Linked DNA regions of Homo sapiens: region 2 is linked to region 1. The links come from fine-mapping of genetic effects on gene expression. A gene starts in region 1. The other region holds a variant in brackets. All regions are shown on one strand. Distances are between the middles of the regions. Region 1 holds the start of LINC01872 (long intergenic non-protein coding RNA 1872). Region 2 has its middle 18 kb from the start of IGLON5.

Region 1 (15,709 bases):
TGAGAGCACTAGGAGCTGTTTCAGACATTACTGGAAGCCCTGAAGTTAAGTTTTTCAGTGTTTCTGTGGGCACACTTTGCCAGGTGGAAAAGACAATTCAGAGGACAGCCATAGAGGGGTCCGTACATGAGAGTCCCCCGCAGATTCCTCAACAGCGCCCCGCAAGTGACTCAGGTGAAGAGACCGAGATCAGGAGCTACTGGTTAGGGGAAAATTACCCCTTTCTTCCAGTAACCTCAAAAAACTTCAACGAAAAAGTGTGTGTCAACACTGAAGACAGATTCCTCATTATTAGAGACCTTGATGAATGTGACTGTTCCCTCCTAATCCATGATATTCATCAAATGGCCACCATGTCCTACCTGTTCTAAATAGAGCGAGGCAATTTCCAGCATTCTTACACAGAAGATGCCATAGTACATTTGGCTTCCAGTGAATGTTCCACCAAAGACCACTTGAGACCGGGAAGAAGGAAATTAAGAAAGGTGTTCTGTTTATTGAATGGGTAATACTTCACTACGCACTGAGCTGGGTGCACTGCAAATCTTGGGGCATTCATTCTTATAACGATGATAATATGAGATAGGTTCAGCAAATATCCCGATTTTCCAGGCTAGGAAACAGCAATGATAAGGGGAGTGACTTGCCCAGCAGCACCCAGACAGGAAGTGATGGAGGGAGAATTGGTCATAGAGCCTAAGAGGAACATTGCAGGTGGGAAGAAGAGAAGCAGAGTAGGAGGTCTGGCTTGGACTTCTAGCCTTGCAGGGTAGGTGAGGGATCACAGACAATGTAGAGCCTCAGGAAATTTACTTGCCACCCCTCAAGAAGGTCTAGCGATCAGGTTCAGGCCAGATGAGGACAGAAGATAGAGGGGAACTGGTCTGGGAGGCCTGAATCCTGTGGGCTTCCAGAAAGTCCTTCTGAAGCTCCTTGTGAATAGCAAGTAAAGAGAAGGCTGCATGCTGGAGAAACTGGAAGAGGGAAGCCAGGATGCCTTGCTGACTCCTGACCCTTCCTCCCCACAGTACCTGCTAAGCTGCTCAACTCCTCTTGCTCCTTGGAGAAGACACTGCAGTGCAGCTGTTCCTTCCATGGGATTCCCACACCCTCTGTGCAGTGGTGGATGGGAGGAGTCCCCGTGGGTGTGGATGGCATGGATGGCAGCCTCCAAGTGACTTCCACCATGCTTGGCCCCTGGGCTAACAGCACCATCAGCCTAACTGAAGAGCCAGAAATGGGCATGAGACTTCTCTGTGAGGGGAAGAACCAAAACGGAACCCATGCTTTGAGCATCCTACTGATGTCAAGTGAGGGTGGAGGGGGCTCGGTGACTGGGTGAGGACAATAAGCGGGATGGGGACAGTCACTGGGGCTAGAGAATGGAGCAGAGTTTTGGCTCCGATGCCAAACTTCTCACATGCTCTCTGCTTCCAGGAAAGAGTTCTTTGGCTGCCCAGGCCTTCGTGAAAGGGCTGATCCAGGGTGCTATCTATGCGGGAATTGTAATTGCGCTGCTCTTCCTCTGCCTCCTCCCTCTCATGTGAGTACTAGGGTTAATATTCACCCGCAAGCCTACTACCGGGCAGGCCCTGGCTGCAGCCCTGGCACAGAGAGAGCAAAGACAGGACCCCTCCCCTCAAGGAGCTTAGGGTCTAAAGAGGGAAAGATGTACCAAACATGGTCACCACAATCCAGGGCCATGAGGACTATACAGAACCGTAAAACTGTGTCATAAAACAGACACTTTGAACACATTTTATAAAGGAGAAGACCAAGAAGGGACTTGGCAGCCCTGGAAAAGGCAGCAGCGAGTCCCCGGGGTGCTGTCTGTGGTGGGCCTGCAAGGGTTCAGTACTCGTTAGCTTGGTGGAAAGTATTAATAGTACAGGTTGAGTATCTAATCCAAAAATCCAAAATCCGAAATGCTCCAAAGTCCAAAAGTTCTCGAGGCACCGACATAATGCCACAAGTAGAAAATTCCACACCTGACCTCATGTGATAGTTCAATGCACACAAACTTTATTTCATGCACAAAATAATTTTAAATATTATATAAAATTACCTTCAGGCCATGTGTATAAGGTATATATGAAACATAAATGAATTTTGTTTTTATACTTGGCTCCTATCCCCAAGATATGTCATTATGTATAAACAAATATTCCAAAATCTAAAAAAAAAAAAAAAAATTGAAATCTGAAACACTTCTGGCCCCAGGCATTTCAGATAAGGGATATCTAACCTTTGTATGCAGACGCCCAGAGGCATGTTTGAGGCATTTCCAGTGTCTTTGTATAATGTCAGGTGCATTGAGAGTACCAGGTAATGGCTAAAAATGAGGTTGAAAGACATCCTTGGTGTTGGTTCACAGGGTGTTAAAACTTAGCTGCATGTATTAGCTAGAAGCATGGAGTGGGAAGGGGTGAGTTGCAGGAAGTCAGGCCAGAGAGACGGGCAGGGGAGCCTGTCCAGACAGCTTGGACTGAATCCTCATTTCGGAGCCATGGAAGAGTGCTAAGCTGTGAAGGAAAGCTTGAGCTTGGGGTGGGACACAGATTAGAGAGAGTGAGAGCCAGAAGGTCAGAGGCCAGGCAGGAAGCTGGTGCAGGGGACTAAGCAGGAAATAGAAGGCCTGACCTGGGGCAAGTGATGAGGGGCAGCCAGAGAGGTGGGACTTGGGCATGGCTGGCTATGGGGAGACAAAGATGAGGAGTGAGGTGTCAGGGCAAACTGAGGAGCTATTTTCAAAGTATAATCAACAGGACTTGAAGACCAGTAACAATCTCTCTGCCAGTTGCAAGGCCCTTTCTTAGCTGACCTCATCTGAGCCCCACAGCCTAATAAGCAGGGTATCCCCCTTATTCAGAGTGTGAAACTAATTCCCAGAGAGGATGTGTGGCTTGCCCTAGGTCATACAGCAAGCTGGTACTGTTGTTGAGGCTCTAAATCAGAAGTTCTGGTCAAGATAGAGCCCATTTGGGGATTCAGGGAGATGGAGAGCCAGAACCAATCCAAGGCTTATTTCCTTAGAGTGAAACATATCAGAAAGAAGCAGGCGAAGAAAGCTGCAGCGATCAGAGCAAAAAAGAGCTCTAAAGTCAGAGCAAGCCAAGAACTTGAGATGTCTCTGAAGCCTGAGGAACCAGGAAAACCCGTAGTCGCCACATTTTCTGAGAGCCGGATATTGGTATGTACCTATTGTGTCTGGAATCTAGTCTATCGGAATACTGATAATAAGACCCACAGGGAAAGGAGCACACAGTGTTTTGAAGGTGTTATCATCCTCAGTCTTGCAGGATACCTAATGCTAGAGTGTGCTTTCAGGTCATTTTATAAATAGGAAGCTAAGGCCCAGAGAGGAGAAGGATGAAAGTTAAGAGAAACAATTTAAAGAACAATTAAAATCAATTTACACGCACACACCATTACATTGAATCCCCACTGAAAAGGCAGTTGGGGAAAATCCTAATAGCAGTTGTAGCATCAGAGTGGAAACCAAGGATTTGGCCTCTGAGTGTATGGCCGGCAGCAGTCAGCTTGGTGTAGATGCCACAGGCCAAGTCAGCCTGAAGTGGTTAGAGATTAGGCCAAGCCCAGGTTACTCCTTCATTCACCCTGTACCCCACATCTTCAGCAGGGCTTGGAAGATACAGTGTCCGAGGTTGCTATGCCTCACTGTTATTTACCGTTTATGATTCTCCAGAATCAGAATTATCCTGCTGCCCTCCTAACACCCTGCATGAACAGTTGGTGTCCTTTTGTAGATAAGCCATCTGTTAAATTCCACCAATATTTCCTGCAATATCTCCTAATCTTTGTGCTCGACAATGCTGGGGTCTCAGAAATGGGCCAAACCTAGGCCTTGTCCTCAGAGAGCAACTAGACTGGTCGAGAAGGCACCTTCACAGTAGGGGATGCTGAGCCAGGAGTTACGGTGGTGCAGAAGAGGGAGGGACCAAACCTACCTGAGGAAGTCAGGCAAGATTCCCTGAGGAGTCTAAGGAACAGTCAGTGTTATGGGTACTGAAGATGCACAGAGAGGACCAGATGGAGAAGACCGAGTTGCAGGCTTTAACCATGGGGTTGTGAGGAAGGGCTAAGCCAGTGCTCACTCCATGTTGCCTTAATTCTGTGCACAAGGGGGTGTCTTTTTAAGATTTGGATACCTCACCTCTAGACCTGTTCCAACATTCTTTTTTCTTTGTTCTATTTTGCACCTCGCTTTCAGGAAAAGCAAGATAAACGAGCCAGCTAAGCCTGTGGAACATGCCTCATACCTGGAGTCGCCATTATCCCTGGAATTACAAAGATCTGCAAAATTTATAGCGCTCACAGAAACCCTGGAGGCTGTAATAAACCTGGAGCCCCCTGGACTCTCCTCAGCTCACAAAACCCTCTCAATTCCTACACATCCCTTAACACTCATTCTCCATTGAATAGGTGGTTACTCTTAGACCTAGTCTTAGAACCTCTGAAGACACACTTTGTAATTTGTTGTTTGGCTAAATGAGAAGAAATCTGTGCCACCCTGGGAAGGTGTCAAAAGAAGGAAAAATACATGTGACAATATGAATCAAGTCCATCAGCAAGTTACTTTTGAGCGCCTACTGTGTGTCAGTGCCTGAGATACACCTACAAGAGCGCCAGGCTTTCAAGCCTTCATATCTGGATAGAATCCCAACTTCAGTGCTTGGTGGCTGTCTATCTTTGGACAAGATCTTTCATTCCCCATCCTTTGAACATCACATGACCCATATCTGGGTGGAGAATGGGTGAAAAGTACTGTTCAGAGATGCAGGTGAGAAAAAACATGACGATGGGCCCTGAATGCCAAGATTCATTGGAGCTTTGGAGCTTTATCTTGTAGGACCTTATCCTGACTCCCTTAGAATGTAAGTTCCAAGAGAACAGGGACTTTGTCTGCCTTGTTTTCTACTTTTATCACCAGCACCCAGAATGATGCCTAAAATACAATAAGATCTCAAGAATGTTTGTCAAATGATTTAATTAATTATAAGCTGTTTTAAGGTTTGAAGCAAGCAAGTAGAGTGACCAGATATAGACAGAAAAATCATTTCCGTACCCTGACCCCACATATGATATATTTAGAATGGGTAAGGCTGGAGGTAAAGATGCTAGTTAGGAGGTTATCGCAATAGTTCTTGGCCAGATTGAAAGGCAGGCATGCAAGGAATGGGAAAGGGATTCTGGCATTAGAATGAACCACAACTATGTATTGTTCCTCTCAGAATGGATGACAACCTCCTTTCTAGCCAGATGCTAGTAGATTTTTTTTTTTTTTGAGATGGAGTTTTGCTCTTGTTGCCCAAGCTGGAGTACAATGGTGCAATCTCGGCTCACTGCAACCTCTGCCTCCCGGGTTCAAGTGATTCTCCTGCCTCAGCCTCCCGAGTAGCTGGGATTACAGGCACACACCATCACACCCAGCTAATTTTTTATAGTTTTAGTAGAGACAGGGTTTCACCATGTTGGCCAGGCTGGTCTCAAACTCCTGACCTCAGGTGATCCACCTACCCCGGCCGCCCAAAGTACTGGGATTACAGGAGTGAGCCACCGTGCCTGGCCAGATGCTAGTAGTTTTCAGTAGGTGGAAAGAGGGTCATCTCTTCCCTGGGGCAATATTTGTGGGTAAATACAGTGATCCTGTAGCACCAGCTAGATGGTCATCTTATACTCAGGGTGGACGTTTACGTTAGCCCCCACATGTATAAGCACCTCTCACAGGCAGTTCACATTTCACAGAAATATCAGATGTGCCACCATGTGCCAGATAATGAGGGGAAGAAGTAAGACACTCACCCTGCCTCCGTGGAGTCATGGTCTACATAGACAGACGATGAAGAAATGCAGACGAATTTATAGCTTAAAATGTTGATAAGTGCTAGAAAGAAAACAGGACAGAATACTATGAGAAAGCACAGGAAAGGAAGCTAGGTTGGATTACAGAGTCAGAGAAGGCCTCTCAGAGAAAGTGACACTTGCCTTGAGACCTATAGGATTATTAGGAGCTGGCTAGACAGAGGGAGCAGTAGATCCTAAGCTCTGACATGAGAACAGTTTGGTGAGTTCAGGAGCCCAGAGCAGGCCGCTGTGACTGGAATTGACTGAGGGATGAGCTCCTGAAGGGCCAGAACTTGCAGGCCTTCCAGGGCTCTAGTGGGAAGTTTAGGTTTTGTCCTCACTTATGGAGGGTTATTTCCTCTTATGCTTTGTAATTCTGGAAAGTGCAGATTGTTTGAGAATCACATCCAGTGGAGCTGTGTGAGAATCCTGGGCAGCAGAGGTTTTGAGTTGAGGATAGAAGCCTCTATGTAACAGGTTTGGTGTTTGCTTCTACTAAAGATACATCCTCTGTTTGGGAGGGAGAGGCAGACAAGGCTGGGGAGAGGGAGAGTGCCAGTGTTGGGAAAGAAGAGAAAAAAATGTAGAAAAGGAATAGGAGAGAGGATAGGGATCGGGTTGGAGATAGGTCAGAGATGGGTTTGGGAATGGGAATAGAGAGGCTGGGCTTCATCGTGTGTCTTGTTTTCTCGGTGATAGGGGCCTCGCGTGCAGGACAGGAAACAATGAGTACACAGGGTGCCTTCTGACCAGCCCTGGGGTCCAGCACTAGTCATTTTGTGCCTTAGTTAATGCCTTGACTTCCCGCACATACCAGGTTGAGAGAGGAACGTCCCTTAGCAACTGATTGGCCTGGAGTCTAGAGGACTGGTGGGGGTCTGGAACCAGCTGCCCAAGGAAAACGATTCTCCCAATGTCCGGGGGACGCAGTAGCAACTGTTGCTTCTGACTAGCTCAGGCTCTGGAGACCCGCGCGCTCTCTTATGCGGCTGCGCATCCCAGCAGCTCCCGCGAGAAGGGTCAGGCCCTGATTGGCTCTGGACAAACCCGCGCGAGCTTGCGGGGCGGGGCTTCAAGGGATTGGTATCCCCGTGCAAGGAGGTTGGCGAGGCCTCAGGGGACTCCCAGTTCAGCGAATCCGTTAGCCTTCCTCTGCCTTAGTCACTTCCCCGTGAGGCACTCCGTGTTTGTGTACACGGTTATTCCACGTGTCAGTCAGTTCATCGGGCGCATCCGGAGTCATTGAAAACAGTAATAGGAAGTCAAACAAACCCGCTTGATGCAAAAATTCAGGAGGACATTCGGTTTTTAAGGAAATAGTGCTGAGGAAGGACCAGGCTGGAGCTCCTTGGACCCTGAGACTGGGAGGTAAATATGGAAAAAGAAGTGATAATTTAGGGGGAGGGAAAAGAGATCACCTGTGAAGAAAACTCACGCACACACCAGGGCCTGGAGAAGGAAGTGAGACTGGAAAGAGATCAGAATTTTATTTTTATTTCATTATTTTATTCATCTATTTAATTTGAGACAGTGTCTTGCTCTGTCACCCAGGCTGGAGTTCAGTGGCACAATCTCAGCTCACTGCAGCCTCGACCTCCCAGGCTCAAGCAGTCCTCCCACCTCAGCTTCCAGAGTAGCTGCACCCACAATGCCGGGCTAATTTTTTAAATTGTTTTGTAGAGACAGGGTGTCGCTGTGTTGCCCAGGCTGGTCTCAAACTTCTGGGCTCAAGCGATCCTCCCACCTCAGCCTCCCAAAGTGCTGGGATTACAGATGTGAGAGATCAGAGTTTTTGAATCTGAAGGACCCTTACATAGTCTGCAGTAACCCTCCCATTCTACCGAGGAGGAAAAAGAGGGGGAAGCAGAAAGGGGACAGAACTTGCCCAGAGCTATCCAACGAGTTACTGGCAAAGCCCCAGTTGGAACCAGCCCAGAGCTCTTCCCAACCTTTGATTCGAGGTTGTAAATTAAAGGAGGAGGAGGAAGGATTTTGATAGTGAAAAAAAAGCAAAAGTGGGTTATGATGCAGAGATAGGATTTGTTATCTGGAAGCCTGAGTAGCATCTTGATGTAAGGAGGGAGTCGTTTTTTTAAGAGAGGCAGCGATCAGAATGGAAAAGCAGAGGGCTGGTTCTTGAATCAAAACATCACTGAGAAAAGAGATGAGTCAAGAGCGGTCACAAATTAAATGCTGAGGGAACCAGGCAGGTGATGTGAATGATAAACAGTTGCCTAGCACTTATTTTGTGCTGGCCTCTGTTCTGAGGGTTTTACATGCATTCATTCATTTAATCATTTAATGCTCCCAACAATTCTGTCAGATGAATCCTGTTAAAATCTACATGTTATAAGTGAGGAAACGGGAAACCCAGAGAGGGGAAGTAATTTGCCCACAGTCACACAGCTGGCAAATGGTGGCGCCAGACTTAAACTCAGGCAGGCTGACTCAGCACACGGTCTTAACCACTGTGTTATATGCCCCTCCCAGGTGAGTGCAGCAGGGAGAGCAGGGGCAGCAATGGACTGGAGAACAATTGTCCAATATTAAAGGGGAAAGTTAATATCTGCCATGTGTTGTCAGATCTAATTTATTAAAAAGTAGCTGGGAGTTCAGACTTTTATGTGAGGATCCTGATTTTTAAACATTGCAACTAATGAAAGAAAGTCTGTATGCAGTTTTCTTAATGCAGGCTAAATAAAACCCCCTGCATTTTAACTACCTCACAAAGCCACTAATTTGCAAACTCTAGACTATCTTAAATGAGGAAGCAGTTCCCTAGTGAGGGAAGGGCCTGGCCCAGAAAAACCTAGAAAATGGGAGGCAAAGACCAAGCCTTTGGACTGCTGGCCGTCCACTCACAGAAGAATCTAGAACCCTTCCTTTGAACTGGCTTCACATCCAAGTTGTATGGGTTTCCTGTTGCTTTCATAAGAATTACCACAACTTGGCCGGGCGCGGTGGCTCACGCCTGTAATCCCAGCACTTTGGGAGGCCGAGGCGGGCGGATCACGAGGTCAGGAGATCGAGACCATCCCGGCTAAAAACGGTGAAACCCCGTCTCTACTAAAAATACAAAAAATTAGCCGGGCGTAGTGGCGGGCGCCTGTAGTCCCAGCTACTTGGGAGGCTGAGGCAGGAGAATGGCGTGAACCCGGGAGGCGGAGCTTGCAGTGAGCCGAGATCCCGCCACTGCACTCCAGCCTGGGCGACAGAGCGAGACTCCGTCTCAAAAAAAAAAAAAAGAATTACCACAACTTTAGCAGCTTTTTTGTTGTTTGTTTTGAGACCAAGTCTCACTGTGTCACCCAGACTGGAGTGCAGTGGTGCAATCTCGGCTCGCTGCAACCTCTGTCTCCTGGGTTCAAGCTATTCTCATTCCTCAGCCTCCCAAGTACCACCACACCTGGATAATTTTCTAAAAATATTTTTAGTAGAGACAGGGTTTTGCCATGTTGCCCAGGCTGGCCTGGAACTCCTGGCCTCATGTGATCCACCTGCCTTGGCCTTCCAAAGTGCTGGGATTATAGGCATGAGCCACTGGGCCCAGCCCAATTTTAGCAGCTTTTAAAGTAACACTCATGTATGATCTCACAGAAGGTCAAAAGTTCTGGTGTGGCGTGGTTCCCCTGGTTTTCTGCTCCAGCTTTCACAAGGCCTGAATCACAGTGTTGGCAGGGCTATGTTGCTTTCTCGAGTCCCTTTGGATGAACCCATTTCCAAACACATTCAGAATCAGTTCCATGCTTTGTAGTAGTGAGGTCTGCATTCCCTTGCTAGCTGTCTGCTGGGGTCATTGTCAGCTTCTAGGAGCTGCCCTCATGGGCTCGTGGGTTCGTTCCTTCATCTTCAAAGCAAACAATGGTGAGTCAAATCCTTCGTATGCTTCACATCTCTCTGACCTCCACTTCTGGCTCATGTATGCCCTTTCTTTCTCCTGAATCTCTCTGACTTTTCTGCTTTGCAAGTTTCACGTGATTACATTACATTCACTCAGATAGTGCAGGATGATCTCCTCAATTTAAGATCAGCAGATTAGTCACCTTCACTCTATCAGCAAAGTCCCTTCACTCAGTCAGCAAAGTCCCTTCACTGAAGCACGTAGATTAATGTTTAATTGAATAACCAGGGCACAGGAATCTTGGAATGGGAGACATCTTTAGAATTTTGCCTACCACACAAGTCGAGGGGGAAGACATTTGTAACTCATATGGTGCAAAACTATATGCTTTTCCCACTGTCTTTCTCAAACCTTGTGAGGTGGACAGGACAGTTTGATTTATTCCCATATTTTATACATGAAGCATGGGACTCAGAGAGGAGAAGAGGCTTCAACCGTGATGACACAGCAGTTCTGAAGGCAGCCTGGCATACCGGAAAGAACACTGGGTTCGGAGTCCAGGGACCTACATTATGACTTCAGGATGTCCATTTCTTGGCCCTGTGAACCTGACTAGTTCCTATGCTGTTCTGGGCCTCAGTTTCCTTATCTGCGAAGTGATGCATTGAGAACTACATCACAGTGCTGTTGTGAGATTGAGAATGATAAAGTATGTGAATCTCCAGTGCACAGCACATGGGCCACCATGATTGTTCGGTATTATTTATTTATTTATTTTAAGGTATCTGCAGAGCCACAGCTAGAACCCAGATTTATTTATTTATTTATTTATCTCTCTCTCTTTCTCTCCCTTTCTCTCTCTCTCTCTCTGTCTGTCTCCCAGGCTGGAATGCAGTGGCACAATCTCTGCTCACTGCAGCCTCTGCCTCCTGGGTTCAAGTGATTCTCATAACTCAGCCTCCTGAGCAGTTGGGACTACAGGCGCATGCCACCACGCCTGGCTAATTTTTGCTTTTTAAGTAGAGAAGGGATTTTGCCATGTTGGCTAGGCTGGTCTCGAACTCCTGGCCTCAAGTGAGCTGCCCGCCTTGGCCTCCCAAAGTGCTGGGATTACAGGTGTGAGTCCCCGCGCCTTGCCAAAACCCCAAATTTCTTGGTTCCAAATCTTCTTTCATTTGATAAAGCTTTATTATGCACCAGCTGTGTTCCAGATTGTGTGTTGGGTACTAGAGACACAAAAGTGACTCAGACTTGACTTTGAAAGGTGGACTCCATTATGTCACATAAAGGTACCTTGGGCATGACACACAAAGGCCACCCAGAAGTGGTACACAAAGGTGATTCCAACATGACACACAAAAGATATTTGGACATGACTAATTTTCTCAAGGAACTCACATTCTGGTCAGAATAGATACAGAGTTACTTCCCTGCGTACTGTGAAGGGGCAGAAGCTGACCAAGGAGAGAAAGAGAAACAGAGGGGAAGTAGGGTTAGGTAGTATTTCTAGCAGTCTGCCAAAATCTGTCAAATTTTGGAGTTTATTTTGACAGTAAAGTGAAGCCAACAGATGGTAACGAACAGGGAACTGACATGATTGATTTATAATTTAAAAGGATGCCATGCAGATGTGGAAATGTGAAGGGGCAATGGTGGAAATATCACTGGAACAATGGAGTAATGGAAATTCCACTGTCCTTCCTCAGCTGCAGAGCCCCCTGCAGAGTCTCCTTGTCATCTTCCTCCAAAAGTTTTCTAGGAGTCCCCAAGGAGTCTCCTATGTCTTCACAAACAGGCCCCATTCATCTGGTACCTGCAAGCATGGAAGCTTTACTTTTTTTTTATGGTGGGGATGGAGTCTTGCTCTGTCACCCAGGCTGGAGCGCAGTGGCGCGATCTTGGCTCACTGCAACCTCTGCCTCCCCAGTTCAAGCAATTCTCCCACCTCAGCCTCCCGAGTAACTGGGACTACAGGCATGTGCCATCACACCTGGCTAATTTTTGTACTTTTAGTAGAGATGGGGTTTCTCCATGTTGCCCAGGCTGGCCTCAAACTCCTAGGCTCCAGCAATCTGCCCGTCTCGGCCTCCCAAAATGCTGGGATTCCAGGCGTGAGCCACCACGCCTGGCCTAGGAGTTCACTTTTGGCTAGATTCCCTGGTAAGGCATTTTATCAGTTTCCCAACTAGCGTGACAATCAAATGGAGAAGAGATATGGCAGTGGGCTGTGTGGGGTTGTTACAATAGCTCCACAGGGTCATCAGAAAACCAGGCTCCCCATGTTGTTGTCAGTGACATCCCCAGATCTCTAGCTTTCATTCTCACAGTTGTCTCATAGTCGCCAGGTGGCTGCACCATCTCCAGCATCACGTTCATCTTCCAGGAAGTAAGAAGAGGAAGGTGAGGAGGAGGAAATGATGGTGCTAGTGTCAGAAAAGCAGAACTCCCAAAACTCTCCAGCAGATAGCCTCTTAAGTTTGGTATTTTTAAGTAGACAAGTCTCTCAAAATGTGCGCTCAGTAATCTAGTGGAGTTAAAGATTTCTTTTATTTATTTATTTATTTATTTATTTATTTATTTATTTATTTATTTTTGAGATGGAGTTTCACTCTTGTTGCCCAGGCTGGAGTGCAATGGTGCAATCTCAGCTCACTGCAACCTCCGCCTCCCGGGTTCAAGCGATTCTTCTGCCTCAGCCTCCCCAGTAGCTGGGATTACAGGCGCGCCTGCCACTACACCCTCTATATATATATTTGTATTTTTAGTAGAGACGGGGTTTCACCAGGCTGATCTCAAACTCCTGACCTCAGGTGATCCACCTGCCTCAGCCTTCCAAAGTGCTGGGATTACGGGCATGAGCCACCACGCCTGGCCAGGTTTTTATTTTTATTTTTTTGCATTGTTCATGAGAAAGAAGAGTACGGTCCTACAGATTGGTATACAATTTAGGAAAACAGAGATGTCAATTACAATGTTATTATTACCAGAGCAAGAAATCATCAAATAAGACAACCCGTCAGAATTCCATTTTATTTGGGGATCATTTTCATAAGACATGGAATAATTTCTAACATCTTTGTAGTCTCATAAGACCATTTGGTTTAAATTATTCTTCCAAGAGCAGATTCGTATTACCAAAGACTAGAACAAGTCAGCAACCGTCATGAATATTCATACAAAACTGTATATTGCAGAGGAGAACATAAATGATATTCTTATAAACAGTCTCAGTTTTGCACAACATCAAATCAAATTCCTTGAACCATTTTATAACACAGAACAATATCTTTTGATTTATTGCTGCAGGGGCAGGAAACGTGTCCTTCAACTCTTTCTGAGAGTCATGTACTTTATTATGAAAATTTATGTTTTTAAAACCAAGTCCTGGAATTTTATTAGCTAGTATTACATGAAAAAAAAAAAAAACCCTTGGGAGCTCAGTTGGGATGGCAAAAAAAAAAGGGAGAAAAGCTGAATAGGCTTTTATTCACTGATAGTAATTTGATAACATTTTTCTTCTCCTTGGCTCACTGGCCAGAACTCTGCCATATGGCCACCCTAGATGAAAATGAAACAAGAAAATAGAGATTTTATTTTTCAGATTGGTGGCTTGATCACCTGGACAAATTTGAAATAACAAGGAGGAAACAGAGGTTGAATATCAGGTAGGCAACTCTCAGGGTCTACCTGAGATATTGCCCTAGAGGAGATGGATAGCTAGGGCTGCTGAAGACAGTCTGAGAGAGGAGGCTTCTTTCTGGTTGTGAGATCCAGGAGAGAACTTCCAGGAGGAGGTTACATTTGACCTGGACTTGGAGAGAGAAGGAGGGTTTGAATGTGGGCAAAGGACAGAGCTGCAGAAGGACGCCATGACACGGGGAGTGGCCTGAGTAAACAGGCGGAGGAAGGATGTGCGGAGCATCTGTAGAAAGGATCCCCATTTCAGCCGGTGCATTGGCTCCCGCCTGTAATCCCAGCACTTTGGGAGGCCAAGGTGGGCAGATCACCCAAGGTTAGGAGTTTGAGACCAGCCTGGCCACCATGGCGAAACCCTGTCTCTACCAAAAATACAAAAATTAGCTGGGCGTGCTGGCAGGCACCTTTAGCCCCAGCTACTCAGGAGGCTGAGGCAGGAGAATTGCTTGAACCCGGGAGGCAGAGGTTGCGGTGAGCTGAGATCGCGCCACTGCACTCCAGCCTGGGTGACAGAGCAAGACTCTGTCTCAAAAAAGAAAGAATGACAGGGTGCAGGCATGGGGGCTATCGAGGTAAGGGAAAAGCGGGGCAAAATCAGGGAGAGCTCGAATGAAAGGCAAGGGAGTTTGGAATGTATCCTATCAGCCGCTGAAATATTGTTTATTTCTCAAATATCTCTCTTAAATATATCACCTTCTCTTTGTCCCCCATAGCTATTGTTGCAGCTCAGACTTCATCCTCTTTCTCCTGGACTGTTGCTTCCTCCTCACTGCAGACCCAGAGGAACCTTTCGAACACCCAAACCCGTTCTCCCATGGTTCAAAACCATTCCATAATTTCCATGACTTCCCCCATTGACGTGGGAGGGAGTCCGAGCTCCTCAGCTTGGCATTTGAGGCTCTTTGAAGAGGTAATGGAGTGGGAATGCAGACTAGAGACAGGAAAGCAGACATGGTGTTGAGGCTTCACAAAGAGCGTGCGGACAACCCCTGTTCTTTTGTTTCTGAGGCAGGGTCTCGCTCTGTTGCCCAGGCTGGAGTACAGTGTTGTGACCACAGCTCACTACAGCCTCAACCTCCCAGGCACAAGAGATCCTCCCACCTCAGCTTCCTGAGTAGCTGGAACTACAGGCATGTACCATTACACCCGACTAATTTTTTTTAACATTTTGTAGGGAGAGGGTCTCCCTACATTGCCCAGGCTGGTCTCAAACTCTTGGGCTCAGCCTCTCAAAATGCTGGGATTACAGGTGTGAGCCACTGCGCCCAGCCCAAACTCTGTTCTTGAAGCTCCCCAGCATCTGGTCCCATCAGGCCCCTAATTCACAAGATTCGCAGACCTTAGGGGTGGATTGAAAAGACAAGAGCCCCTAGCAAGCAGTGGACTTCTTTCTAGCCTCACCCCATGCTTCTTACTGCTGCCCCTCTCCTCATCCATTCCAAATCCTGCCCTCCAGGACAGACCAATCTGAGGTCAGAGTTAGCAGCAGGATACATCCTGGTCCTCTCTTGCCCCTGAGATCTCGCTGGGGCTGATGGCACTGCCACTGCTATGGTTGGGTAAGTAGAAGGAGAGGCAGCATGGAGGTGTCTTGGGGAGGTAAGGGTGGGTGGAGTTGGAAGGCAGACAGGGCTGAGGTAAGATGAAGGCTGAGGTAAGATGAAGTACCTAAAAAATTAGGTACTTGGCCAAGCACAGTGGCTCATGCCTGTAATCCCAGCATGCTGGGAGGCCAAGTTGGGCAGATCTCCTGAGGTCAGGAGTTGGATACCAGCCTGGCCAACATGGTGAAACCCTGTCTCTACTAAAAGTAGAAAAATTAGCCAGGTGTGGTGGTGGGCACCTGTAATCCCAGCTACTGGGGAGGCTGAGTTGGGAGAATCACTTGAACCCAGGAGTGGGTGTTGCAGTGAGCCAAGATCGTGCCACTGCACTTCACCCTGGGTGACAGCAAGACTCTGTCTAAAAAAGAAAAAAAAAGTAGAATCTTTATTCTACAATATAGATCCTCAAAAAACCCTCAGTCTTTGAAGACCAGAGTTCAGGTTCAAGCTCTACCACCTTGAGTAATTCTCTTCAGTTTGCTCACCTAGACAATGGGGTGTTCCCCTTCTACAGAGCAAAAGGAAATTTATTTGTGGAAACCATTCAACCACAACAATCCTAGCTTTCACAAGGCTGTTGGGGAGGGGAGGGAGTTCCAAATGAGCTAATGGGTGGTGAGCACAATTATTCACTAACGGTTCACTATGACATGGTCTCTTGTAATGTAATGTGACTGAAGTCAAAATCTGCAGTTATTACAGA
Region 2 (15,709 bases), 21 kb after region 1:
ATGCTATTTTTATAACATGCTTTGTGGCATTTTATCAATTCCAATATACATGTTATTTCACATTCGAACATCTCTGAAATAGAGATATGTCTTCAACCGATGGTGATTTACAGTTGCTGTTGGTCTCAGGTGGCAGTCCTGATAAAGTTGTCATTGCCTGCAGGTGCCTGAACTCTTGTCATTGCTGTTCATATTATCACTGTAATTGAATTATTTGTTCATTGATACATGTTTAATTTATTGCCTTTTCAAACATTTGCAAAAGTATTACATTATTAGCTGCCACTGAAACAAAGTTATGGTGTATACAGAAGGGCACAGAAGTAAAAGAGTAAGCATACCTTCCATTCTGTGACACCTGTAACATTTGTTTGAGAAATGACCAGAATTCCATATTTTTTGTAAAGCAACAATCTGGTGCTTTATAGAACCTAGGAAAGAGAGATACCCACATGTGGATGAAGCCATGTTACTTTTTCTTGTAAGATAAAAAGCAAAAGGGTAATTTATCTCATAAACTGTCAATGCAAATGAAACCAGAAGGAATTGCTTAATCCTTCGGAAGACATTTTTAAAATTTAAATTAACATGACATTGGATGATTCATGTGCTGTTCAGGACTATGTTAGTTCTTAATAGTTTAACTGGCAACATTTTTTTCCCTTAGTGATATATAAATTATGCATCTTACTATTAATGGCATTTTATTATTAATGAAATACCAATTCTATATTTTTGAGCCCCCAAAGACGTCATCATCATCTTTGGTTTTATTTCGTACATTCACTGCTCATTTTGATTTACATATATATTTACCATAGTCTCTATTCTTTATTCCTTACATTCTGTTAGTATTCTCAGATCTTCCATCCAGAATCTTTTTTCCTGAAATATATTCTAGAAAGCTGTTTAGAATTGGTTTTCTGGTAGCAAACATTCTTGGTTTTTTCTCTCACTTTCTCTCTCTCTCTCTCTCTCTCTCTCTACCCGCCCCCCGACTCTCTCTCCCTCTCCCTTCATAGTTGAAAGATATTTTGGCCAGATGTGGTGGCTCATGTCTGTAATCCCAGCACTTTGGGAGGCCAAGGTGGGTGGATCACTTGAGGCCAGAAGTTTTAGACCAGCCAGGCCAACATGGTGAAACCCTGTCTCTACTGAAAATACAAAAAACAAAAATAGCCAGATTTGGTAGTGTCCACCTGTAATCCCAGCTACTCGAGAGGCTGAGGCAGGAGAATCGCCTGAACCCTGGAGGCAGAGGCTGCAGTGAGCTGAGATTGTGCCACTGCACTCCAGTCTGGACCACAGAGTGAGACTCTGTCTCAAAAAAAAAAAAAGGTATATTTGCCAAGTTTGGAATGCTGCATCGGCAGGCATTTTCTTTCAGTATCTTGAACTATTCCATGTTCCATTATATCTTGCTTCTATTATCACAGGAGAAAAGTCAGCCATGACTCTCATCTGCTGCTCCTTTGAAAATGATCTCTCCTTATCTGTCTCTGCCTTTAAGACCTCTTTGTCTCTGACATTTCCGGTTTGGCCTCACACTTTACACTTTCATAACACCAACTTGCCTATTTGTCTGTGACACATGCGTTTCTTGTCCTGCAGCTTTGCTGATATGTGGCTTCTGCCCAATACTCCCCCTCCTCTGCATTTCATTTTCTACCCCTGCTCCCCTCTCACACCTGGCTGACATTTACTCATCATTTAGGACTCAACCTACAGCCCCTCCATCACATGCTCTGGAAAACTTCCCCGGGCCTCTCTCCGGGGCCAGGTGTCTTTTCAGGACTCCTGTAGGTCTCCTGGACTTTTGGGTATTAGCACTAACACTTTTACTTTGATGTGACTGAGTGTGGATATCATTTTTTTAGATTTGTCTTTATTTATATTTATTTGGCCTCTTCAATCTATGCTTTGGTGTCTTTCATCAGTTCTGGAAAGATTCTTAACCACTGTTTATATTGCCTCTGCTCTTTGTTTTCATCATAGGGCTCTCATCTAATGTTTGTCAAACTTTTTTATCTGTTTCCCTTCTTACCCTGTGTCCTGTATTTTCCAGAGAGAGGGAGTCAAGTAAACAAGTACTAGGTTAGAGGTCTGTATGAGGGAGTTGCTAAGAGAACCCTACTCTTTCACTGTCTCTCCATCCTTGGGGCAGAGGTAGGGGATCAGTATTGCCCAGAAAATCCTTTAGCTTGCCTCTAATCAACTCCCTCCAACTTCACACTCTGTCAGTATGCCAGGTGTTTCCCTCTTTCCCCCAGTCTCTTATCTCATCCCGTCATGTTCAGCAATAAGGTTTACCTACTTCCAAGGAAAAAATCAGCTCCCCAACACATACAACGTTATTACCATTGACATTGAGTGATGTACTCCCTGCCTTTTTTAGGGAAAGAGGCTTTCTTCCTCCTGTCCAAGGTAAGCTCCACCTTCTCTGCTTGGGAATCCTTCTCCTCCACTGCCTTAGGAGCTGTACTCCATCAATCATCCCTTCTGGCTCCTAAATTTTCAATCATTCTTTCTTTGCTGGCACAAATCTCTCCCGCCTCAGCCCCACAGGCTTCCTCTATGTACTATCCAATATTCTTTCGAGAAAGTATCTTACACCACTTCCTGATTCTCATCACTCTTCCACTTGCTCCCCAGCACCAGGCCACTGACATGACATTGTCTAAAGCAACCAGTTATCCTTATTCTCAATGTTATTCTCAAAATCCAGTGGCAGGTGTTCTTTCTCTTGTTCACCTTTAGGCAGCATTTAGGATTGGGGTTGGTGGGGTGAGGATCTCCCACCCAGTGGCTTATTTTCATAGCAAGGAAAGCATGGCAAGGCTGTCTGCTGAAAATGACATGGGTGGGAGCATGGGGAATCCATGGGGAATTGAGAAGAAGTGTGATGTGTTAGGGTGGTTGGAATAGCCACTGGGGAGAATGAGCAGGATCTGTATAAGGACAAGGAGAGCAACCACTGAGCAGTAGCCAAGGCCCATTGGTTACTGGAGATTAGTAATCGTTAATGGTGGCAAGCATCATTGCTATGTGACATCTCCTCCCAGCAGCAGTCATTGGAAGACGTCTTAGTCCATTCAGCCTGCTATAACAGAATACATAGACTGGGTGGCTTATAAACAAAAGAAATTTACTTCTCCCAGTTCTGAAGGCTGGGAAGTTCAGGATCAAGTCACCAGAAGATTTGGTGTCTGGTGAGGGCCTGCTTCTTGGTTCACAGATGGCACCTTCTGGTTGTGTCCTCACATGGTGTACAGGGAAAGGGAGTTATCTGGGCTCCCTTTATAAAGGCACTACAATCCCATTCATGAGGGCTACACACTCCCGACCTAATCACTCCCCAAAGGCCCCAGCTCCAAATACTAAAACACTGGAGATTATGTTTCAGCAGAAGAATTTTGGAGGAACACAAATATTCAGACTATAGCAGAAAAAAAGGAGTAGATGATGGCATTGGTCTAGGTTTGAGTATTCATGGACAAGATGCCAGGAAGGGTGATGGAGTGGGGAGGTTGGAGACGGGCAAGCAAGGAGGCTGGAAGGAGAAAGAGAGCGCTTTAACTGGGGAGCCGTTGTACCTAGTGGGGTGGGGAGGGAGGAAAGGAAGAGAAACAGAGAGTCTTCATAGACTCTAGAAAATATAGTGTCTTGGAATTGAAGCTTCCACCTGTGATATCATATAATGGGAACAGTTGGAAGGGGAGCACCAAAAAACTGGATGGATAGAAGAACTAGGCAGATCATGAGGTATTGGAATTTACATTTTCATAAGTGGAAAAGTTTTGGGAGATAATGAACCCTTGGTAGTTAAAGGAAACAGTTGCATTCATCAGGTCTCTTCCAGTTGTGAGTTATAAGGGCTGAATTCAACAAGCTCAAAGAGAAAGGGAACAGTTCTGGTCATCTGTTGCTATGTCTCTACCCCTGTCTTAGTCCATCTGGGCTACTACAACACAATGCCATAGATTGGGTGTTTTGTGCGTAACAGAGATTTATTTCTCTCAGTTCTGGAAGCTAGGAAGTCCAAGGTCAGGGTGCCAGCAGGTTCAGTGTCTGGTGAGGGCTCTTTTCCTTATAGATGACATCTTCTCACTGTGTCCCCACTTGGTGGAAGGGACTGGGGTCTCGCTGAGGTCTCTTTTATAAAGGCTTTTGTCTCATTCAGGAGGGTTCCATCCTCATGAACTAATCACCTCCCAAAGGCCCCACCTCCAAATACGATCACTTGAGGGTTAGGATTTCAACATGTGAATTTGAGCGGGGGGTGTAAACATTCAGATCATAGCAATCCCCCAAAATACAGTGGCTTCAAACAATAATCATTTTAGTATTTTTCATGATTTCCTAGATTAGGAATTTGGGCAGGGCCCAGCTGGGTGATTCTTTTGCTCCCTGTGGTGTCACTGGAGGTCACTTGAGTTGGGCTAGCATGGAGAATCCAAAATGCTTTCATTCACAAACCAGGCATTTTGGTGTGGATGGCCAGAAGGTGAGGCTCAGCTGGGCCCCTCTTTCTTTCCATGTGGGCTCCGAGTCTCTCCATGTGCTCTCTTCCAAAGCAGAAGCTGCCAGTCCTCTTAAAGGACAGGCCCAGAATCAATAGCACATCACTTCCACAGCATTCTCTTAGAGCAAGTCACAGGCTGGCCAAGATTCAAAGGAAGAAGAAATAGATTCCACCTGTCCTTAGGAAAACTATCCAAGGATTTGCCACCATTTTTAATCTGCTGTAGGAACAGATTGACTGTTAAGTCTAAAGGCACGTATTAGTTTGCAGGCGCTGCCATAACAAAATACCACAGACTAAGTGGCTTAAACAACAGAAATTTGAGGCTGGGCACGGTGGCTCACGCCTGTAATCCCAGCACTTTGGGAGGCCGAGGCAGGCTGATCATCTGAGGTCAGGAGTTTGAGACCAGCCTGACCAACATGGAGAAACCCCATCTCTACTAAAAATACAAAATTAGCTGGGTGTGGTGGCGCATGCCTGTAGTCCCAGCTACTCGGGAGGCTGAAGCAGGAGAATCACTTGAACCTGGGAGGCGGAGGTTGCAGTGAGCTGAGATCATGCCATTGCACTCCAGCCTGGGCAACAAGGGCAAAACTCCGTCTCAAAAAACAAACAAACAAACAAAAACGGAAGTTTGTCCTCCCAGCATTCTGGAGGCTGGGAGTCCATGATCAAGGTGTCAGCAGTGTTGGTTTCTCCTGAGGCCTCTCTCCTCACTCTCTTACTGCCTCTTCTCATGGTCATACCTCTGTGCACACACCCCTCGGTCTCTCCCTCTTCATGTAAGGTGCTATGGTCTGAATGTCTGTATGCCCCTACCCCTGCTAATTCATTTGTTGGAATCCTAACCCCCAAGATGATGGTGTTTGGAGGTGGGGCCTTGGGAGGTGATTAGGTCATAAAGGTGGAGTCCTCATGAATAGGATTAGCGCCCTAATAGAAGAGCCCCCAGAGAGCCATCTCCTCCCTTTCACCACATGAGGACCCAGCTAGAATTTGCTATCCATGAACCAGGAAGCAAGCCTTGCCCAGACGTCAAATATACCAGTGCTGTGATCTTGGGCTTTACAGCCTCTAGAAGTATAAGAAATAAATTTCTGTTGCTTATAAGCCACCCAGTCTATGGCACCTTGTGATAGCAGCATGGACAGACTAAGAAATAAGGACACCAGTCATATAGGATTAAGGCCCCACCTGAACAGCCTTCATTTAACTTGAGGCGCTATTTCCAAAAACAGTCGCATAGACTATGGCCCACCCATAATGATCTCATTTAACCTTAATAACCCCTTAAAAGGCCCTATCTCCAAACATGGTTACATTCTGAGCTACTGGGGGTTGAGACTTCAACATATATATTTGTGGGGACACAATTCCACCCGTGACAGGCGGATCTACACTTCAGGCATGTCTGAATCCAGGCATGCAGATGGCTTCACCAAGAGTCTGTCTGTCCCCACCCTATGGCTCTGTTTCCTTCTGGTTAACGTGAGCTCTGGAGGCTCTCTTCACCTTACAGGCAAGATGGCCAGCCCCAGATTCACGTCCTCCTCTCTTAGCTAACTCCAGCTGACAGAGAACTTGTCTTCTCGTGGTGATTTAGCAATCCCAGGGAAGACTGATTGGCTCTACCTGAGTCAAGGGTCGATGCCACCTCTAACAGCCCATCCCAGCTGGCTCCCCCAGGAAGGGATTCCAGCCACCACCAACAAAAAGGAACTGGCCTCAGAAGCTCTGGGAGCTGACATGTCGGGGTGACAATTGGGTCTGTCCATGGGAATGTCAAAGGCGCCCAAAATGATGACAGAAATCTGGGGACAGAAAGACTGAGAGTCAAGCATAAAAATCCTCTGGGAATACAGAGGCCTGGCCTAGGGGGTTGCCAGTGACAGAAATGAGAGGAAGGGGATGTTCTGGCCCAATAGCCAGAGGCTCAAAGTAGCAGAAGGAGACTCTTTCTTCAGAGGATGAGGGTTCTAAAACAGAAGGGTAACTTCCTGACGTTGCCATGGCATCTGTAACCTGTCATGGTGCTGGTGGGGGTGTAGCAGTGAGGACGACCAGAGGTCACTCTTGTCGCCATCTTGGTTTTGGTGGGTTTTGGCCAGCTTCTTTACTGCAAGCTGTTTTATCAGCAAGGTCTTTATGACCTGTATTTTGTGCCGACCTCCTATCTCATCCTGTGACTTAGAATGCCTTCACTGTCCAGGAATGCAGCCCAGTAGGTCTCAGCCTTATTTTACCCAGCCCCTGTTCAAGATGGAGTTACTCTGGTTCAAATACCTCTGACAATATCGTAGAGCAAACCAGGCCTCAGGGAGGTGGACACTGAACGAGGACATATGCAGATGTGTAGGGACAAATGTTGGGAAGTGCCTGGAGGAAAACGGGGAGCTGGGAGAGAGTGTGGCAAGGGGACGGGGCGGGGAGCAGCCTTCAGGTACTTGCTCTGAGGCCTAAAGGAGTGTGGGGAGCTGCCCAGACTGAGGGAGCCGCAGTTCTAGGCTCTGAGATTGCAAAGGTTTATCGAGTTCAAGAGCCCAGCAGGGCCAGATGAGCTCAGAGCTTAAGGAGAGCTTGGGAGAGGCTAACCTGCTGGCAGAGCCTCAAGGGCTCTGGTGAGAAGTTTGGGTTTCATCTTCCCTCGTGGAGGGCTATTGCCTCTCATGCTTGGTCATCCTGGAAGGTGAGCTGCTCTCAGTGGGGACTTTACCTGCAAGAAGCATATGCGGACAATGTGGTGGGCAAGTCCCCCTGAAATGAGTTTTGTGTGAGTTGCCCAACAGCGAAACACACCGGGGGCTATTTGTGTTCATTGCTCACTTTGTCGCTCTCTGATGCAAATCTCTATAAATGGAGGCCTCAGCTTCTAAGATAAATACAAAAAGGTTTTTTTTTGCCACCGAAAGCCCAGGCCAAAATAGACATGCTTCCTTGTCATTCCCTTGATCAATGACTAGATTTTTTTTCTGGCGCCCCCCTTGATGTGGGGGTGTCATATCCAGGTTGCTACCTAGTATGGACCCAAGGCCTTGTTGTCTGCTGTCACTGGACCATTTAAAGCAAGTCCCTTGGTAATCATAACAGCAAGCCCCCGCTTCCCCACAACCCAGCAGTGTGCAGCCAACCCTCAGTTGATGCGTGGCCTCTGATCTTCAGTCCCCAACGTCCTTACGACCTCAGCCCCATCAGTATTTTCGGATGTTTTTGTAGAGCAAGTGTTTTCAGACAGGAAATGGACGTTTGAATCTTATTGTCTGAACGCAGAAAGAAACAATGGAAGGATCTCCATTTGGGGAGGAACAGGTCGGGTCTTTAAAGCTTGCTCAGGCTGCTCTGCAGGGGACACGGGACAGAAGGACACAGCCGCCAGCCAGGGACCAGCAGGTGGCCCCTGCAGCTGCCAGAGCAAGAAAGGAAAGGGAACAGTTATATAATCCATGGGACAGCCATACAACAGAACAACACAGCTGTCAGAAAGAGCAAGGCGATGTGCC[G/A]GGCATGGACATGCAGACATGAGCCAGCAATATTCGAAGGAGGAAGAAAGGTGCAAAAAAAAAGACCTGTCCAAAACTGAAAAGTATATATGGAGACATCGCAGAGCAGCAAGAGAAGCAGGAATGGACCAGACACGAAGGGCCACCAGGCTGAAGGGCTGGGCTGTGTCCTGGGGGGACTGGGAAGCCATGGGAGGGCTGTGAGCAGGAGAGGAGCCGGGCAGCTCTGGGGGACAGAGTGAATTCCAGGAGGCCCAGAAAGAAGCTTGGGAGAGGGTCCACGCCAAGACAATAGAGGTTCTTATCCCCATTTGACGGCGTGGGGTGGGGCTGTGCTGGTCTCAGAACCAGGAAGCGGAGGAAGCTGGTGTTCTGGGCCCAGCCCAGGGCTCCTTCTGGGAACTGGACGGGGCAGGGACTGAGCACAGCATTCACCACGGGGCTTCCTGCCTTAGAATGAAGATGCTTACCTGGTGGGAGGAGCATCAGAGTCCCAAGGCCAAAGAAGGCTTGCCCCTTAAGAAACCAGAGCTGCTGGAGGAAACAGAAGTACCCAAAATGCCTGAAGCTGACACCCCACCAGACCGGGCTGGAGGTAAGTCCCTGGGACAGTCACAGGCAGACTGTCAAGCAACAGGGCCGCAGGCCAGGGCCCCCACCCCATCACCTGGCAGAACCCCGGGGAGGCACTTGTTCAGGACGGAGAGACCCAGGCCCCCTCGCCCCACACAGCAGATGCTACATTTGCCAAAACAAAGCCCCACAGACTGGGCGGCTTGAACGGCAGATACTGATTTTCTCCCCCTCTGGAGGCTGGAAATCCCAGGTCAAGGTGCCAGCAGCAGAGCTTCCTTCTGAGGCCTCTCACCTTGGCCGGTAGATGCTGTCTTCTCCCTGTGTCCTCACAGGGTCATCCCTCTGCGTGTGCCTGGGTCCTAATTTCCTTCCCTTGTAAGGACACCAGTCATTGAATTCAGGCCCATCATGTGACATCACTTAACCTTAATCACCGATGTTAAGACCTTGTCTCCAATACAGTCACATTCTGAGTCACTGGGGGTTAGGATGTCAACATATGAATGATGGGGGGTGGGGTGGATCCACACTTCCGCTCATAACAGAGGCTTAAGGAGGCTGCTTGGATTCCCCCGTGTTGGGTACTTAGAGAGGGGATTGGGCTTGTCTAAGGCAGCGGAGCAACCGACTGTGGTTCTCCCAAAGTCTAGGGCTCTGGAGAGAAAGAAGAGTGTAGACTCCGAGATGGATCACGGCATGCGGCCCAGGACGTGGAAACCTGGCCCAGGCAGAGGTGCGACTCCATCCCAGACTCCAGACCCAGAGGCCGTCGCCCGGCTCTCACCCATTTCCTGGGGAAACATGCCCCGGGGCCTCCCCAGCGCCAGCCCTCATGTTAGCCAATGTAGGGGACACGCCTAACACCTGACACCTGCCCAAGGGACACGCCACCCCAGCAGCCAGGCTGACAGGAGCAGAAACAAAACACACAGGGATACGCCAGGCGGGCAGCACCAGGAAACAGGCTGCTGCCGCCACAGGGGCCGCTGTGAGCCCAGAATGGATCCAACCCAGCCTCAGCCTTCTTCAGAGAGAGAAACTGAAGCATGCTCAGCACGATGGGAAGTGGCTGAAACCCTGAAGAACCCCCAAGAGCACATCCACGGAGACACTGGGAACCATGAGGCCCCAGCCTCTGCACATCTGCATTGCAAACAGGGAAACTGAGGCTCACCGTGCCTCGGGCCACACTGCAAGGCTGTGCACTGCTCAGGACTCCGGAACCCGGGACCCTTGTCCCCCGCTGCAGCAGCTGACCCTGTCCTGGACATTTTCTCCTGACTTTATGAGACTCTAGTGCAGAGGTTGCAAACTCAGATGCTCACAGCCACCAGGCAGGGAACAAGAGGGGCACAGTTGGCCTAATGGGGGCCGTGTCTGTCTTGAAAGCAGCTGCCCCTCCTGAAGGCGGCGGCTCACAGTGGCGGAACTCCCTCCGACTCCTCCCCACCCCCTCCCCACAGGTCAGGAACACGGGGAGACTACAGCTAGCTCTTCATATTTTTTTTTGTTTGTCTTTTGAGGAGAATCCAGAGATCTCGATTTCAGTGTGAAATATCTTGATTCCGGCACATTAGCAATTGAGAACATGTTTTTAAAAGGCAGCGCCGCGTGGGTCAAAGAAAAACCCTGATGAGCCTTCTCATTTGCAAACTCAGATCAGAGGCATAGATGTGGAGGGGACTCCTGCTCCCTGAACACCCTTCCTGCCCACAGCAGGCGGGGTTATTCAGAACGCAGACGCTTTGCCAAGGGCAACAAGAATCCCCAGGTTCTGGGAGGAAGCTTGTGTGTGGAAGAGTAAGGAGGGATTTCTAGGTAGAGAAAAACATTCCAGGTGTTCACTCATGTCACTCATGTGGCCACAAATCCCCGGAGGCCTCCTGTGTGCCAGGCCGCGGGCTGGGGACAAAGAGAAGTCAGACCCAGGTCCTGCCCATAAGACCTCCAGGTTGTTACACCCTTCGAGCAGGGCCAGGGCTGTGTCCCAAGAAGCATGGGGAGAGGGGAGGGGAGGAGGAGCTGGCATTGAGGGAGGGAGGGCTTGACCCGGCTCGGGGAGCTGAGTGTTGCTACCTGAGCCCAGCAGGCATGCAGGGAGAGGTGACAGCACCGCCAGGCACAGAAAGCTGCAAGATTGAAGGCAGGAGGCATGGTGCTGGGGGGTCAGAGCACTCCAGCAAGGGCAGAGCAAGCAGCATTTCTAGGGCAGGAGGCAGACAATGGTGAGAACTGAGCCAGGCAAGGGGCCACAGGCTGCGCCTGGGTAAAGCTCCCTGCAAACAGGCCTCAACTGTCGCCCCGCTCACCCTCAGGAGAAACAAGGGAGGAGCTGATACCTGGGGGATCAGCTTCCCCCTCTCTCTGAAGGACATGCACAGTGGTGACAATGTCCCTGAGTTTGACTTCAGTCCTGATCCCCCACCAATTGAAAGGTCGTGGGGACTAGGAGGGTGACTTCAGGAAAAATGTGGCATCCATATGGGTGGGCTGAGGGATGAGCGCAGCAGGGGCCCAGCAGCTCCACAGATACAGGTGAGATTGGAAAGTGGAATCATCTCCCAAGAAGTGGATATTGGGCTGAACTCTTTCCCCAGAGTCAAGGGAAAGACACAAGAGGGCACTCCAGGTCAGACAGACAGATGGGGTCTAATACCAGGCTGTGTTTCCCCGTCTAGGCTGAGGTCACTGCCGGCTCCTCAAGATTCCCTGTAGGGACCAGAGGGGGCTGAGTCCATGGAGCAAACCGCTAATTGGCCAGTGGTCAGTTGTGTGCATTTGTACATCTACAAGGAGAGGATCCAAGGAGGAGGCCATGGCAGGTGGCTCTGTACAAACCTCTGTTCCCTCAGGAGATGACGGAAGCAGCCGTGATCACTGTCCTGGCCAGGACTGAGGGTGACCCAAGCCCTCACAGGCCTTCATTCACTTAAGCCAGAGACCCTGTGGAATCGGTCCCATTATCATGCCCATTTTACAGAGGAGGAAACTGAGGCCCAGAGAGGCTCAGAAGCCTCCCTGAGGTTACGTTCCTACCTTCTGAGACAGATGCTATCCCCCTGCCCTTACCCACAAGGAAGTTGAAGTTCACAAAGGGGAGGTCCTTCCAGAATCTCACAGCCTGGGGACAAAGCCAGATTTGAGATGGCCCTGCCCTCTCCTGCCTGCTCCTAGGAGCAAGGCCCATCAGGATCACATCAGGCTCACTTCTCCCCATTCCAGAGTGCAGACTGTGGAAGGGAACTGTCTGGGGCCCTGCAGCCACTTCAGGCTTTGCTGGCTCCAGGAGCAGGTCTAGGCTCTCCCTCCCATTGACCCTCAAAGTCTAGTCTCTCTGTCTCTGTTTCTCTCTCTCTCTCAATTCCATGCACTCTCTGTGTGCCCTGTACCCTGCTAAATTTGGAGAATGGCTGTGGATAGGGCTGCCACCATCCCTTCCTCTCCCAGATGCGGATTCCCCCAACCATGGGACACTGCAGGGTGGGGGGGTCCGTGGGATCATGAACTTCTTCTGCAGTGGCCACTTGGACAACAGAGCTGAGCCACCTGTGTTTACATCCCAGCTCTGGCCCTGAGTGTGGGCCACTCCCATGTTCCCTAACCCCAGCTTTCACCTGCAAAATGGGGGTATAGCATACCGTGGATCACTGTGAGGCACAGAGGAGTTCATGTTTATTCAGGAACCAGCTCGGGGTTAAGGGCACGGTGACGGCAGCCTGTGTCTGTTGCACACTGTGTCTGTGCCAGGCCATGTTCTAAGCACATTACATGGGTCCTCTTGTTTATATCCATCAGGGTTCCACCAGGGAAACAGAACGAGTAGCTGATCCTTATACAAAGGCTTATTGCATGGGAGTGGCTTATGTGATTCTGAGAGCTGGCTAGGCAGGTGCTATGGACTGGATGTCTGTGTCTCGCCAACATTTTTAAGTTGAAACTTAACCCCCACTATGATGCGGTCTGGAGGCCTCGGTGTGGACTGCTACAACAAAATACCATAGACTGAGTGGCTTATAAACACAAGAAATTCATTTCTCACAGTTCGGGAAGCTGGGAAGTCTAAGACTTCTTATTTCTTCTCCTGGGCAACCTCCATTCTGCTCTTAAGGCCTTTTTGGGATGTGATTAGGTTATGTAGGTGGAACTTTCATGAATGGGATTCATGCCCTAAGATGGCCGGGCATGGTGGTTCATGCCTGTAATCCCGGCACTTTGGGAGGCTGAGGCAGGAGGATAACTTTAGCTCAGGAGTTTGAGACCAGTATGGGCAACCTGGCGAAACCCCATCTCTACTAAAACTACAAAAATTAGCCAGGCATGGTGGCACATGCGTTTGGTCCCAGCTACTCGGAGGATGAGGCAGGAGGATCACTTGAGCCTGGGAGGTGGAGGTTGTGCCACTGCACTCCAACCTAGGTGACAGAGCCAAACCCTGCCAAAAAAAAAAAAAAGACCTAAGAGGCCAGACGTTTCCTCTTCTACCATGTGAAGACATAGCATAAGGCACTGTCTGTGAACCAGGATGCCGGCCCTCACCAGACACTGAACATGCTGGTGCCTGGATCTTGGACTTCCCAGCTCCCAGAACTGTGAGAATTGAATTTCTTGTGTTTATAAGCCACCCAGTCTGTGGTATTTTGTTGTAGCAGTCCACACCGAGTAAGACAGCAGGTGTGAAGTCTGTAGGGCAGGCAGGCAGGAGGGGCAGTCTGGAAACTCCAGCAGCAGCTGAAGCGAAATTCTTTCTTTTCCCGGGAAACCCCCATTCTGCTTTTGAGGCCTTTCAACTGATTGAATCAGACCCACCTACATTATTGAGGATAATCTCCTTCACTTAAAGTCAACTGATTAGAGCAAAAACAACAACAAAAAGGTAACTATGAGACGTGACGGATATGTTAATTTGCTTGACAGTAGTAATCATCTGATTATGTATATATATATATATATCAAAACATCATGTTGTATACCTTAAATGTATACAGCATAGTCAACTGATTAGAGACGTCAGTCACAGCTACAAAATCCTTCCACAGCGACATGTCTCAGTGTTTGGTTGAGCAGCTGGGGTCTGTAACACAGCCAGGTTGGCACATAAACAGACCATCGCACTGCTGGTCCCCACCATGGCCCTGTGAGGTGGGTTCTGAGATTATCCCCATCCTGTAGAAAAGGATGAGGAGACTCAGAGAGGATAAGGAGCCCGCCTGACTGAACAAACGGCCGAGACACCTGAGCCAGGGCTGGGAACGCCCCTTCCTCACCCCCCCGCGCCACGTCCCATCCAACCTTGCTCAGGGAATGCTTCAGCTGCTATTATTAGCACCAAGCTCGGCTCCAGGGACATGGCACAAAAAAGAAAAGTACATCTCAAAGTGGGTAACCATACCTGACCTTGTCCTAGGAAACAGAGAGTCGGGGAGGGACGTCTTTGAAGATGAGAAGAGTTCAGTCAATGAAAGGGATAGGAACTAATTTATTCTCTCAAAAATATACTAAGGGCCAGGCGCGGTGGCTCATGCCTGTAATCCCAGCACTTTGGGAGGCCGGGGTAGGCGGATCGCTTGAAGTCAACGTGGTGAAACCTTGTCTCTACTAAAAATACAAAAAGTTAGCTAGCTGGGTATGGTGGAGTGCACCTGTAGCCCCAGCCACTCCGGAGGCTGAGGCAGGAGAATTGCTTGAGCCTGGGAGGTGGAGGTTGCAGTGAGCCAAGATCGTGCCACTACACTCAAGCCTGGGTGACAGAGCAAGACTCCCTTTAAATATATACTGAGGCTGGCTATGATGGTATGCACCTGTAGTCCCAGCTACTCTGGAAGCCAAGGCAGGAGGATTATTTGAGGCCAGGAATTTGAGACCAACCTGGACAACACAGCAAGACGCCATCTCTACAAAAAATAAAAATAATAGCTGGGCATGGTGGCATACACCTATAGTCCCAGCTACTTGGGAGGCTGAGACAAGAGGATAGCTTGAGGCCAAGCACAGTGGCTCACACCTGTAATCCCAGCACTTTGGGAAGCTGAGGCAGGAGGATCACTTGAGCCCAGGAGTTTGAAACCAGCCTGGGGAATACAGTGACACCCCACCTCTATAAAAAGTTTTTAAAATTAGCATGCAGCCAGGCGCAGTGGCTCATGCCTGTAATCCCAGCAGCACTTTGGGAGTCCGAGGTGGGCAGATCACCTGAAGTCAGGAGTTCGAGACCAGCCTGGCCAACATGGCGAAACCCCGTCTCTACTAAAAATATAAAAATCAGCCCGGCGTGGCAGCGGGCACCTGTAATCCCAGCTACTCAGGAAGCTGAGGCAGGAGGATCGCTTGAACCTGGGAGGCAGAGGTTGCAGTGAGCCGAGATTGTGCCACTGCACTCCAACCTGGGTGACGAGAGTGAAACTCCATCATCTCAAAAAAAAAAAAATTAAAATTTTAAAAAAGAATTAATTATTTTGGAAAGCCTTTGCATGAATAAGGCATGAATCTTTGAACACCCCTGAGATTTCTAAGCATTGTGTTCAGTGGGCTTCAGGCCTTGACTCATGCCCTGCAAAGCCCCCTAGCAGAATGGAACGCTCTCCATGAATAAAGATAAAAGCCAAAGATGGTGCTAGGTCAGCGAGGTCCTGGCCTGAAAAAGACAGTCCCCTCCAGTGGGATTTCTTAAACAGACTGTCTAATAAAGGTACGATTTGCAGAGGTGCGAGCAGTGTTAGGGATGTAGGGATGGTAAGGATCTCAGGTGCCAGCAATGGGAGGAGAAGTTTCCTGCCAGATTCTGCTGAGTCCTGGAGGAACAAAGGGAGGAATGGTATGACCGAGGCCTTAGTGAGAACTGGGATCATGGAAGAGGGGCTGCTGATGGCACTGAGGCTCCCACCTTGGGAGCAGCAGGCAGGGAGGAGGGGATCCTCCAGCCCCTTCCAGTATTCTGCCTGTGCCTCCCTTTGACCAAACCCACCTCGAAGTTGAAGGGCAAGGGAGCTTGCTGATGGGGTCAGTAGAGGTCAGCCTCATAGGCAGAGGGGATGGAGGAGGGATGGTGTGGTGGACTGAATGATGGCCCTCAGAGACATCAGTCCTAACGCCTGGACCTAATGCCTGTGCATGC

The links. PIP is the estimated chance that this variant, and not a neighbour inherited with it, causes the effect.
Region 2: its variant is fine-mapped to the expression of LINC01872 in testis (GTEx, PIP 0.98).

What each region holds. Positions count from the first base shown.
Region 1 is chr19:51,264,340-51,280,048 of GRCh38, forward strand. LINC01872 (long intergenic non-protein coding RNA 1872) reads left to right here and starts at 6,927. Exons shown (of 3, transcript NR_136526.1): 1 at 6,927-7,233; 2 at 14,415-14,532. It overlaps SIGLECL1 (SIGLEC family like 1), which reads left to right. Exons shown (of 6, transcript NM_001385465.1): 3 at 1,029-1,310; 4 at 1,438-1,543; 5 at 3,034-3,190; 6 at 4,232-4,991. The coding sequence ends at 4,258. It overlaps LOC107985327 (a long non-coding RNA gene), which reads right to left and starts at 6,828. Exons shown (of 4, transcript XR_007067309.1): 1 at 6,680-6,828; 2 at 5,824-5,905.
Region 2 is chr19:51,285,301-51,301,009 of GRCh38, forward strand. No RefSeq gene overlaps it. Among named protein-coding and RNA genes, the nearest start is that of IGLON5, 18 kb to the right of the region's middle. RefSeq lists enhancers at 7,170-7,848, 7,849-8,527, 9,206-9,884, 11,243-11,920. The variant G/A (reference allele first, on the strand shown) is at 8,023.